Regions from separate parts of the Homo sapiens genome. Here region 2 is linked to region 1. The links come from fine-mapping of genetic effects on plasma protein levels. Region 1 holds a variant in brackets. A gene starts in the other region. All regions are shown on their forward strands.

Region 1 (5,368 bases):
ACATCTGGTCCACCTATACCTGATCAACCTGGCAGAAAAGCTACTATCAGCAGAGACCCTCTGTCCATACTCAGTGACCACGGACAGCTTCTGATTTCCCCTCACCTTTAGGCATGCTCAAGTCCAAGTCAGGTACCAGTCCCTGTGTCTCTCCAAACACAAAAGTCAAGTTGGAGGAATGGTTCTGAGAAACTCTTCACTTGGCTGTAATTAACAAAGCAACAGTTCCTTCTGCCACCAGAGGGTGTGCAGCAAGGATGGGCAGCACAACCTGCTACCAACTCTCTCTAAAGAAATTCTTTTCTCTTTTTTTTTTTTTTTTTTTGAGACGGAGTTTCACTCTTGATGCCCAGGCTGGAGTGCAATGGCGCAATCTTGGCTCACTGCAACCTCCGCCTCCCAAGTTCAAGTGAGTCTCTTGCCTCAGTCTCCTGAGTAGCCGGGACTATGGGTGCGCACCACTGCGCCTGGCAAATTTTTGTATTTTTTTTAAAGACAGGGTTTCACCATGTTGGTCAGGCTGGTCTCAAACTCCTGACCTCATGATCCGCCCTCCTCAGCCTCCCAAAGTGCTGGGATTACAGGCATGAGGCACCACACTCAGACCCCTTGCCCTCATTTTTGACAGATAGTTTTGCTAGACACAGATCCTTGGTTGATAAGTTTTTTCTTTCAGCACTTTGAATACGCCATCCCACTGCCTTCTGGCCTCCACTGTTTCTCATGAGGAGTCACCTGTTCATCATATCAGGGTCTCCTTTTCGGTGATGAGTCATTCTTCTCTTGCTGTTTCAAGATTTTCTCTTTGGCTTTCAGAATTTTATTATAATGCATGTGGGTGTGGATCTCTGTCTTGTGTTCATTCTACTGGGGTTCTTTTTTTTTTTTTTTTTTTTTTTTTGAGATGGAGTCACGCTCTGTCGCCCAGGCTGGAGTGCAGTGGCACAATCTCAGCTCACTGCAACCTCTGCCTCCCAGGTTCACGTCATTCTCCTGCCTCAGCCTCCTGAGTAGCTGGGACTACAGGCGCCCACCAACACACCTGGCTAATTTTTTATATTTTTAGTAGAGACGGGGTTTCACCGTGTTAGCCAGGATGGTCTTGATCTCCTGACCTCGTGATCCGCCCACCTCAGCCTCCCAAAGTGCTGGGATTACAGGCGTGAGCCACCGCACCCGGCCTCTACTTGGGTTCACTGCATCTCTTGGATGTGTAGATTAATGTTTCCATCAGATTTAGATCATTTTAGATATATTTTTCCTTTGTTTTTTTTTTTTTTGCCCTTTTCTCTCCTCTCCTCTGGTATTCCCATCAGCTGTATTTTGATGAGCTCAATGATGTCCCAAATTTCTCTGAGGCTCTGTTCATTTTTTATCATGGTAGATACACATAACAAAATTTACCATTTTAACCACTTTTACACGTACAATTCAGCAGCATTAAGTATATTCACAAAGTTGTTCAATCATCACCACTATCCATTCACAGAAATTTTTCATCATCCCAAACAGAAACTGTATACTCATTAAAGACTGGCTCCCCACTCCCCTTTTCCCCAACCCCTGTTAATCTCTATTATTCTTTCTGTCTCTAACTTTTATAGTTTGATCATAACAATCCCCTTTTCATCAGGTTTTCATGGAGCGTAGGAGGGGTAATTCTTTGACTTAAAAATATAATTTGAAGAAAATGACTGCTTAGGAGAGAGAGACAGAGAGAAAGAAAGTGAGAGAGAGAAAGAGAGAGAGAGAGAAAAGAGAGAGAAAGAAAAGAAAGAATAAGAAAGAAAGGAAGGAAGGAAAGAAAAAAAAGAAGGAAGGAAGGAAGAAAGGTGGGAAGGAGGACGGAAGGAAGGAAGGAGGGAAGGAAGAAGTAAGGAAGGAAGGAGGGAGGGAGGGAAGGAAGGAAGGAAAAGGAGGAATGAAGGAAGGAGGAAAGTAGAGAGGGAAGAAGGGAGGGAAAAAGAAAGCTATGAAAGCCATTGACCACAGGTCGGGATGGGAATGGGGATAATTCATCAATTTTTCTACGCTGACATAACTCCCGAGAGTTCTGACTATTCATTGGCTTTAACAGATTTGCCAAGAGGACAAATCTCAGCTTAATTAGCAAAGGATAAAATCATAAAATTAGTGGATTCCCTAATCTGGGCATGCCACATAGATGAATATGATTGCAAGGGCAGGTTTGGAAAAGGGAATGATGCCTGAATATACTGGAATTCCCAAATATTTTGGACCTCAAAGTTTGGGCTTTTAAGGAACTACCATTTAAATCTGCAGTTTGCTGTAAAGATGGTTAACAGAGTTCTGGGCCAGGCACGGTGGCTCATGCCTGTAATCCCAGCACTTTGGGAGGCTGAGGCGGGCGGATCACCCGAGGTCAGGAATTTGAGACAGCCTGGCCAACGTGGTGAAAACCCGTCTCTACTAAAAATACAAAAATTAGCCAGGCGTGGTGGCATGTGCCTGTAATCCCAGCTACTCGGGAGGCTGAGGCCAGAGAATTGCTTGAACCTGGGAGGCAGAGGTTGCAGTGAGCCACTGCTCTCCAGCCTGGCCAACAAGAGCAGAAACTCTGTATCAAAAAAAATAGTTCATTGTGCAGAATTTAACATATTTGTCAAATAATAGGCTGACCAGCCATGGAGAGAAGCTCCTATTATAGTCACAACCTATTCAAAAATATTAATGTGGGTGGGGTGCAGTGTCTCATGCCTGTAATCCTAGCACTTTGGGAGGCAGAGGTGGGTGGATCACTTGAGGCCAGGAGTTCAAGACCAGCCTGGCCAACATGGCGAAACCCCATCTCTACTAAAAATACAAAAATTAGCCGAGTGTGGTGGCACATGCCTGTAATCCCAGCTACTTGGGAGGCTGAGGCAGGAGAATCACTTGAACCAGGGAGGCAGAGGTTGCAGTGAGCCAAGATCACGCTACTGCACTCCAGCCTGGACGTAGAGTGAGATTCCGTCTCAAAAAAAAGAAAAAAATTATAG[T/C]GCATTTGAAGTGCATTCAAAAACTATGAGAACACGATTTTAGCTGTGAGCTTGTAAAAACAAAAACAAACAAAACTTATGAGAACACTTGTACCTCCCTAGCCTGAGGGGCATGATGTATAGCCTCTTTCAGGACTGTTGGTACATGTCCCTTTGAATATTCACTGTGGAGAATCTTTTTTAGCAAGCGTAGCTAAATTGTATCTGCTCCTCTAAACATTTGCCAGAAGAAGAAATAGTTTATTTTCAGGTTCAGGCTCTACACATTCTCTTTCTTTTCTTTTCTTTTTTTTTTTTGACAGAGTCTCACTCCTTCACCCAGGCTGGAGTACAGTAGCGTGATCTCGGCTCACCGCAACCTCTGTCTCCTGGGTCCAAGCAATCCTCCGGCCTCAGCCTCCCAAGTAGCTGGGATTACAGGAGCCTGCCACCATGACCAACTAATTTTTGTATTTTTTAGTAGAGACGAAGTTTCACCATGTTGGCCAGGCTGGTCTTGAACACCTGACCTCAGGTGATCCACCTGTCTCCGCCTCCCAAAGTGCTGGGATTACAGGTGTGAGCCACCGCACCGGGCCCTCTTCTCCCACCCTTTCCCTTTCTTTCTTTCTTTTTTTTTTTTTTTTTTTCTTTGACAGAGTCTCACTCTGTCGCCCAGGCTGGAGTGCAGAGGCATGAGCTTGGCTCACTGCAACCTCCACATCCTGGGTTCAAGAGATTCTTGTGCCTCAGCCTCCCAAGTAGCTGGGATTACAGATGCGTGCCACCACACCCGACTAATTTTTTGTATTTTTAGTAGAGATGGGGTTTAGCCATGTTGGCCAGGCTGGTTTTGAACCCCTGCCCTCAAGTGATCAGCTCACGTTGGCCTCCCAAAGTGTCAGGATTACAGGCATGAGCCACCACACCTGGCTTCTACACATTTTATGAGCAATAAATAATGTTGATAATCTCTCAGTTTTCTTCTTTCTTCCTGTCTCTCCCTCCCCAGTGGTCCTGCAGCAGTTCTAATCCCATTCCCATCACCAGTTGATCAGAGACCTAGTATTTTTAGGAAAGTAGCAGCCTTTATTTATTTTTTATATTTATATTTATATTTTTACTTATTTATTTATTTATTTTTGAGACAGAGTTTCACTCTTGTTGCCCAGGCTACAGTGCAATGGCACAATCTTGGCTCACTGCAACCTCCGCCTCCTGCGTTCAAGTGATTCTCCCGCCTCAGCCTCCAGAGCAGCTGGGATTACAGGCATGTGCTACCATGCCCGGCTAATTTTGTATTTTTAGTAGATCTGGGGTTTCTCCATGTTGGTCATTTTTAGTAAATCTGGGGTTTCTCCATGTTGGTCAGTTTCCATGTGGAGAGAGAATTTTGCCATGTTGCCCAGGCTGGGCTTGAACTCCTGGGCTCAAGTGATCTGTCTGCCTCAGCCTTCCAAAGTGCTGGGACTACAGGTGGGAGCCACCATGTCCAGCCTGCATACTTTTTATGTTATCAGAAATGCTATCTTTCTCTTTGGTTACATTTCTTTTTTTTTTTTTTTCGTAAATCAAAGTACTATTTTATTAAATGAGTTATTTTACACAATATGAACATCAATATAATTACAATTGTAAAAAATTTTTTTATAACAAGGATGGACTGATTTTCATATTTCCAAATCAGAGTCAACTGTACATTTACACAGAATTGTCTTTGCATGAAGCCCAAAAGGGAACAGCATAAAAAATGAGTGTTTCTGTAGCCCCTTTATTTTTGCTGATCAACAGTTTGTTAGAAAAGCAGCTGCAGGTATGTTACCTAAGGTCTGAGACAGTAGAAGAGTCAAAGGTGTCGTGAATTCACCTGTAAACAACCTTATGCCTGAACATCAGCTAATTCTGGAGGAAGTGAAGTCTTAGGATGCTTGCTCTCAAAGTGCTGCTTGAAGGTCTTAGGGTCTGGCATTCGTGTCCTACAGACAGTGCAGGTATATATTAAGGCAGCTTTGGCAGCAGCCTTTTGGTCATGTCCTTGTTTCTTCTTTTGTCCAGCTTGCTTTTTGGCATTATTCTGCTGAGACTGAATTTTCTGCTGTCCACGAGCCATATCCGGGCCAGGAGAATCTTGCGTCGGAGAGACAGTGCAGCGCGAGAGGGCCGGGAGAGGACGCCGGAGGGAAAGGAAGGGGGAGCGCGCCCAGCATCGCTTGGGCCTCCTCCACCCGCTCAGGAGGGGAAACAGGAGAGCCGGGAGCACAACAGCCTCGCGCGCCCGCCGCCGCCTCAGCCTTAGGGGAGGCCACTACGCCTCTGGTTACATTTCTTGATCATGGTATCTCCCCAGCTAGGTAAGTATCTCTTTGATTACATTTCTTTTTTTTCTTTTT
Region 2 (5,306 bases), not on the chromosome of region 1:
AAAAGGGAGAGTGCTCCGCCGGGAGCGGGGAGCGAGTAGGGTGGCGTCTCCAGGGATTTAACCTCCTACCCTCAGTTCCATGACGCCACCCCCTCCCTCCAAAGACTGGGACAGCGCCTCCATTTTTGTTTTGGGGAGGAAGGGCAGGGGCTTGCGGATAGAAGGGGGTCAAAGGAACGGTGATTATCACCTGTGAGGGGAAAGGGGGTGCTGTCCTCCCTCCTTCCCTTTTCCTCAGCCTGCACCCCCTGCAATCCCCCACCTTTCGGGGTCTCCCCCTCCTTGTTGCTAAGGCCCGGACCGTCATCCCAGCAACAGCCTCAGTCATGTGACCGGCAATGGCGGCGCTGACGAGAGGTAGGTGAGCCCGGCGCCCCCCACACCCACCGCGCGCCCCCCGGGCCCCGCTCGCACCCCTCACGCGCCCCCCGCTCCCCCGGCGCCCCCTCCTCCACCTCCCCTCCCCGCGCGCGGCTCCGGGCTCCCCGCTCCGTGCCCGGCCGATCATCTTTCTAGCACCCTCCAGCCTTGGCCTCCATTCGGGGGTTCTGAGGGCTGCGATCGGGCCGACATGCACCCCCACCCGGCGGTGGGGATCCGGGGGCTTTGGCTACTGAGGGATGTGGGGAGTTGGTTCCGGGTCGGGTCTTGGAGGAGGCCGTGGGGGGAGGGCGGGAGCTGCTTCAGTGGATGCCCCCAGGGACCCTTGCCCATCCGGGCTGTGCCTCCCTCTGGCCTCTGTCTGGAGGGAGAGACTGGTTCCTTGTCCGGCCTGGGTTGCCACAGAGGAATCACAGACCCACCCTAAACTGGGGCCCCGCCTCCCTTTTCTGTGCCAGCAGGACTTGGACCTAGGACACCTAGGTCCTGGGTCCCCCGTGATGGGGAGAGAAGTGTTGCATCGCGGATAGACTGTATGGGCTGAGACTCTAGGGTTCCATTTTCACTTATGAATCTCGAGGTGCATCTGGCCTTGGGGGACGATGATGGAGGCATGAAGGGACAGCTGCTCCTTCTTGGATCAGTCAATAAATGGAGGTCACACTAATGGCCCTTCTTTCTGTTTGAGCTGCATTTGGAAGTGTTGTGGAGACAGCCCCGTAGCCCAATGCGACCAGACTCAGGGAAAACATCAGGCCCCTCCAGCTGAGCCCTTGTGTGAGCCCCGCCCCTCCCTAAATGCCAGACTTGGGAGCTGACAGACAGCACTGCCTGTGCTGGGTTTAAAAGGTGACAATGAGAACTTTGTTATTGCAGGGGCTGCTGCCACTTTGTTCACATCCTTAACAGACTTCAGCAGAAGGGACTGAGTTAGCTCTCAAGGAAGGCTCCCTGGCAATAGGGGCTGAATTATTTGGCAATGTGGAGCAGGCGAGGAGTTGGGGAGCATAGGAAATATTCCGGTCCATGTGATCTGAGGGAGGTGGCAAGAAGACCTCCACCTGTGTGGGCGTTTTCTTTCCTGACTTCTCTTATGTGTGCCCTAGGCTTTCTTGGGGGCCTCAGAGCTGGGGAAGAAAGGAGGAAGGTTAGCATGTTGAAGTTCCTTCTTGAGCAACTTGGGGAGAAGCTGATAATGGAATTCTGCAGAGAAGAGAGGAGATGGAAGGGGAGTTTTTATTTCTGGGTTGGCTGAGGGGAATGGTAACATTTGCCATCATAACTTTTTACCCTTCCCCCACTCCCAGTCCTGGTCAGCTGAGTGGAAATAGAAGGATTTCTGCTGCCATCATCTTCCATGGGCTTTCCAGGTATCTCCCCCGCAAGGGATCCTCAATTTTCACCCTTAAACTGGTTTCCTTCATTCCATGTTCCAAGTAATGCCATTCTTAGTAACCTATACCCAGGTTTCTGTCTCTGTTCCATGGGCTGCTGGGTTGGGGGCCATGGGAATTGGGAGAAGGGGTTTCTCACTTTCCTTCCATTTTTCCGCCCTACCAGGTCACACGACCTACAAGTAGGGAGCAGGGAAAGAAGAGTGAGCCTGCATGCCAATTCTAAGCTCTTCAGGATCAAAGTAAGCAAAAAGGAGGGGCAAAGAGTCTCCCTCCCCTTTAAACAGCCCATTTTTCCCCAAGAGGTGGGAGGGGCAAGTTGTTTCTATGATCTGGGAGAAATGACAGGAGAAACAAGACTGATACTTGGCTTAGATGATAATATAGCTCTGGAAACTTTTTTGCTCTTCAGTGGGTTTTGGGTTTGGAAGATAAGGGGAGACAGAATATGAATTTGGGTGAAGGGTTGGGGATTAGGCTTTGAGAAAACAGAGGTAATAGAGGGTTTGGAAGGAACCTGAAGTAGGAGGCACTGATACTTGTCAAATGGGGACCCCCCACCCTGAGTCCCTTTCACCCTGGGGGCAGTGTCGTTCGTCCTGTCCAGAATGGCAGCCTGTGGAGGCACCTGCAAGAACAAAGTGACTGTGTCCAAGCCCGTGTGGGACTTCCTGAGCAAAGAGACCCCAGCCCGGCTGGCCCGGCTTCGGGAGGAGCACCGTGTGTCCATCCTCATAGATGGCGAGACTTCTGACATCTATGTTCTCCAGCTTTCCCCACAGGGTCCTCCCCCGGCCCCTCCAAATGGGCTCTACCTAGCCCGGAAGGCTCTCAAGGGGCTGCTAAAAGAGGCAGAGAAAGAGCTGAAGAAAGCTCAGAGGCAGGGGGAGCTGATGGGCTGCCTGGCTCTGGGGGGTGGAGGGGAGCACCCTGAGATGCACCGCGCAGGCCCACCCCCTCTCCGAGCAGCCCCACTTCTGCCCCCAGGAGCTCGGGGGCTCCCCCCTCCTCCTCCCCCCCTGCCCCCACCTCTTCCTCCTCGCCTTCGGGAGGAGGCAGAAGAGCAGGAGAGCACCTGCCCCATCTGTCTGGGGGAGATCCAGAATGCCAAGACATTGGAGAAGTGCCGGCATTCATTCTGCGAGGGCTGCATCACCCGGGCTCTGCAGGTGAAAAAGGCCTGCCCCATGTGCGGCCGCTTCTATGGGCAGCTGGTGGGCAACCAGCCCCAGAATGGGCGGATGCTGGTCTCTAAGGACGCCACCCTCCTACTGCCCAGCTATGAGAAGTACGGCACCATTGTCATCCAGTACGTCTTCCCGCCCGGTGTCCAGGGGGTAAGAAGACCATGGCCTGCCCTTACCCTTTGGCTTTCCCCAAGCTCTGACCTAGGAAAACCGGGTGAGGGTGAGTGTGCTTGTTAGATGTGAGACAGTCTTGCTGTCTTCCACTGTGCCCTCCTACTCAGTGCCCTGGACCTAGGAGGTCCCCGTGAGGCCCAGCCTTTCCATCCCTGTGATCCCAAGGCACACGTGAAAATCAGATATGAGCTAGGAAAAAAAAAAGCAAATCAGATATGAGAGGAAGGAATTGCATATTATTTCCTTGATGAACACAAATACTGTGCTGACATCTTGGCAGAGGTAAATTCTGTGGAGGTGGTGGCTTAGGGGAAGGGAGGCACAATAGGAAGGGATCTGACCAACCCAACAGAGCCAGGAGCATCACTCTGTAAAAACAGGAGTAGTCAAGGCCTATAGGTGTCTTCCTGCTGGACAAAGAGTAATGTGCAATTCTGGCTGCAGAGGGGTGAAGAAGCTGCACAGAAGAGTGATGGAAAATGGAACAAGTTAGACAGTGGCAGAAACATTAGGAGTATTTTCAGGTGAAGGGAAGGCTGAAAGATAGATTATTCTGTCTTCACATTTTTGCTGAGTTGTCTGGAGTGTAGGGACCAGCTAACTTCCATCACTTCTGAGAATCCATTTGTTGCTGAATGGAGACTTGAGGGATTGAGACAGCAGAAAAAATCTCTTAACACATAAGGATTATGCTCTGAAACAGGCTCTTGCTGCCGAGGCCGTATAATCTCTCCTTCTGTGGAAAGCTGTCAGCCTGTTGCTGCCCCGTTCGCATTAGCTGGGGGTGCTCAGACAGAGACTAGCCTGGATGACCCTCCTCTGGCATCTGGGCCTTAGGATGCCTGGCTGCTCACTGCCCACTCTGCTTCACCTTCCTCCCAGGCTGAACACCCAAACCCAGGAGTTCGGTATCCTGGCACCACACGGGTGGCCTACCTCCCGGACTGCCCTGAGGGCAACAAGGTGCTGACCCTGTTCCGCAAGGCGTTTGACCAGCGTCTCACCTTCACTATCGGCACGTCCATGACCACAGGGAGACCGAATGTCATCACCTGGAACGACATCCACCACAAGACCAGCTGCACAGGGGGACCCCAGCTGTGCGACCCCTCTTCATTTCCTTTCCCTTGGCTCCTCCCCTTTGTTCCATTTCCACTGAGGGACCCACCAACCCCTCGCTCACGGAGCCTCCTAACTGGAGAGAACCACTTCCAAACTGTTCAGCCATCTCAGTTTCTCCTACATTCAACCTGGTCCTGGTGTGCCCAGCTTAGCCTACAAAAATAAGCAGAACTGGGCTAAATTATCTTGGATTTGGAGGTGTCCTCCCTTAGGGGAGGTGGGGAGGTGTCTGAGCCACCTAGAATGAGGGTGAGCATGGGGATAATAGCAAGTTCAAACAGCTAACAACCCTCACCCTCATTTCTCTTTGCTCCCAGGTTTGGGTACCCAGACCCCACCTACCTGACCCGGGTGCAAGAGGAGCTGAGAGCGAAGGGTATCACAGATGACTGAAGGACATCGCCTTTGCCAAGGCCCCTGCTGTCTGCCTCTACTAGGACCCAGCAGAAGCCTCTTTCTCCTCTCTGCCCCCTGCCCCCCACACCACACCTGTAGGGGACCTGTCTGACTGGGAAGGGAGTTCCGAGAGGGAGGGGGCAATCCCTTCCCCCATCCCCCACTGGCCAAGTGTTTCAATGCAGTGTGAGCCACTCCCTTCTGGCAGAGGCCGACCTCCAAGGCTCTGTTCTCCCCTCCCCGTGTACATATACTCCCGGTTTCCCTGCCCCTCCATTGCCCTTGGCTTTTTCTGGTATGTGCTGTGCTCCACGACCAAGCCGAGAAAGGACCTAGGGTGGGGAAGGGAGGGTCTCTTGATTCCTAACCGCCCCCACATACTGCTCCACCGCTGAACTTCGGGTGCCGGGGAGGAGAAATTGGGCTGATGTGAGCTCCCCGTCACCCGCCATGGAGCCGGCTGTGTGTGTTCATCAGATACAGTTCTCCCTTAACCTTGTCCTTTCTCTCCTGTGTCTCAGTCTCCGTCAGTCTGTCTTTCTCCGCTCTTCTCTGACCCCTGTGAGGAACCTCCTTACCCTGTTCTGGAATCGCTGCCAGACTGTAGCTTTTAATTTAATAAAAATAAAGTAAAATATGCAACTCTTTATGC

Alleles and levels. Alleles are on the strand shown, and positions count from the first base shown. The strength of an association depends on the size of the effect and on how common the allele is.
With allele C in place of T in region 1, the plasma level of the protein whose gene starts at base 323 in region 2 is lower (weak association).

What was found. PIP is the chance, under the fine-mapping model, that this variant and not a neighbour inherited with it causes the effect. The UK Biobank Pharma Proteomics Project read protein levels with antibody pairs (Olink). The fine-mapping took linkage between variants from a reference panel, not from the people measured, so its PIPs are less certain.
Region 2: DTX3 starts here. The variant in region 1 is fine-mapped to the plasma level of the DTX3 protein (UK Biobank, PIP 0.93).

The regions. Positions count from the first base shown.
Region 1 is chr1:224,170,619-224,175,986 of GRCh38, forward strand. It overlaps the pseudogene LOC724084. Among named protein-coding and RNA genes, the nearest start is that of DEGS1, 9.9 kb to the right of the region's middle. RefSeq lists an enhancer at 1-442. The variant T/C (reference allele first, on the strand shown) is at 3,000.
Region 2 is chr12:57,604,502-57,609,807 of GRCh38, forward strand. It overlaps DTX3 (deltex E3 ubiquitin ligase 3), which reads left to right and starts at 323. Exons shown (of 7, transcript NM_178502.4): 1 at 323-357; 2 at 1,070-1,230; 3 at 1,689-1,751; 4 at 1,942-2,017; 5 at 2,364-3,112; 6 at 4,019-4,236; 7 at 4,576-5,301. The coding sequence starts at 2,017. The coding sequence ends at 4,651. RefSeq lists enhancers at 1-204, 205-717.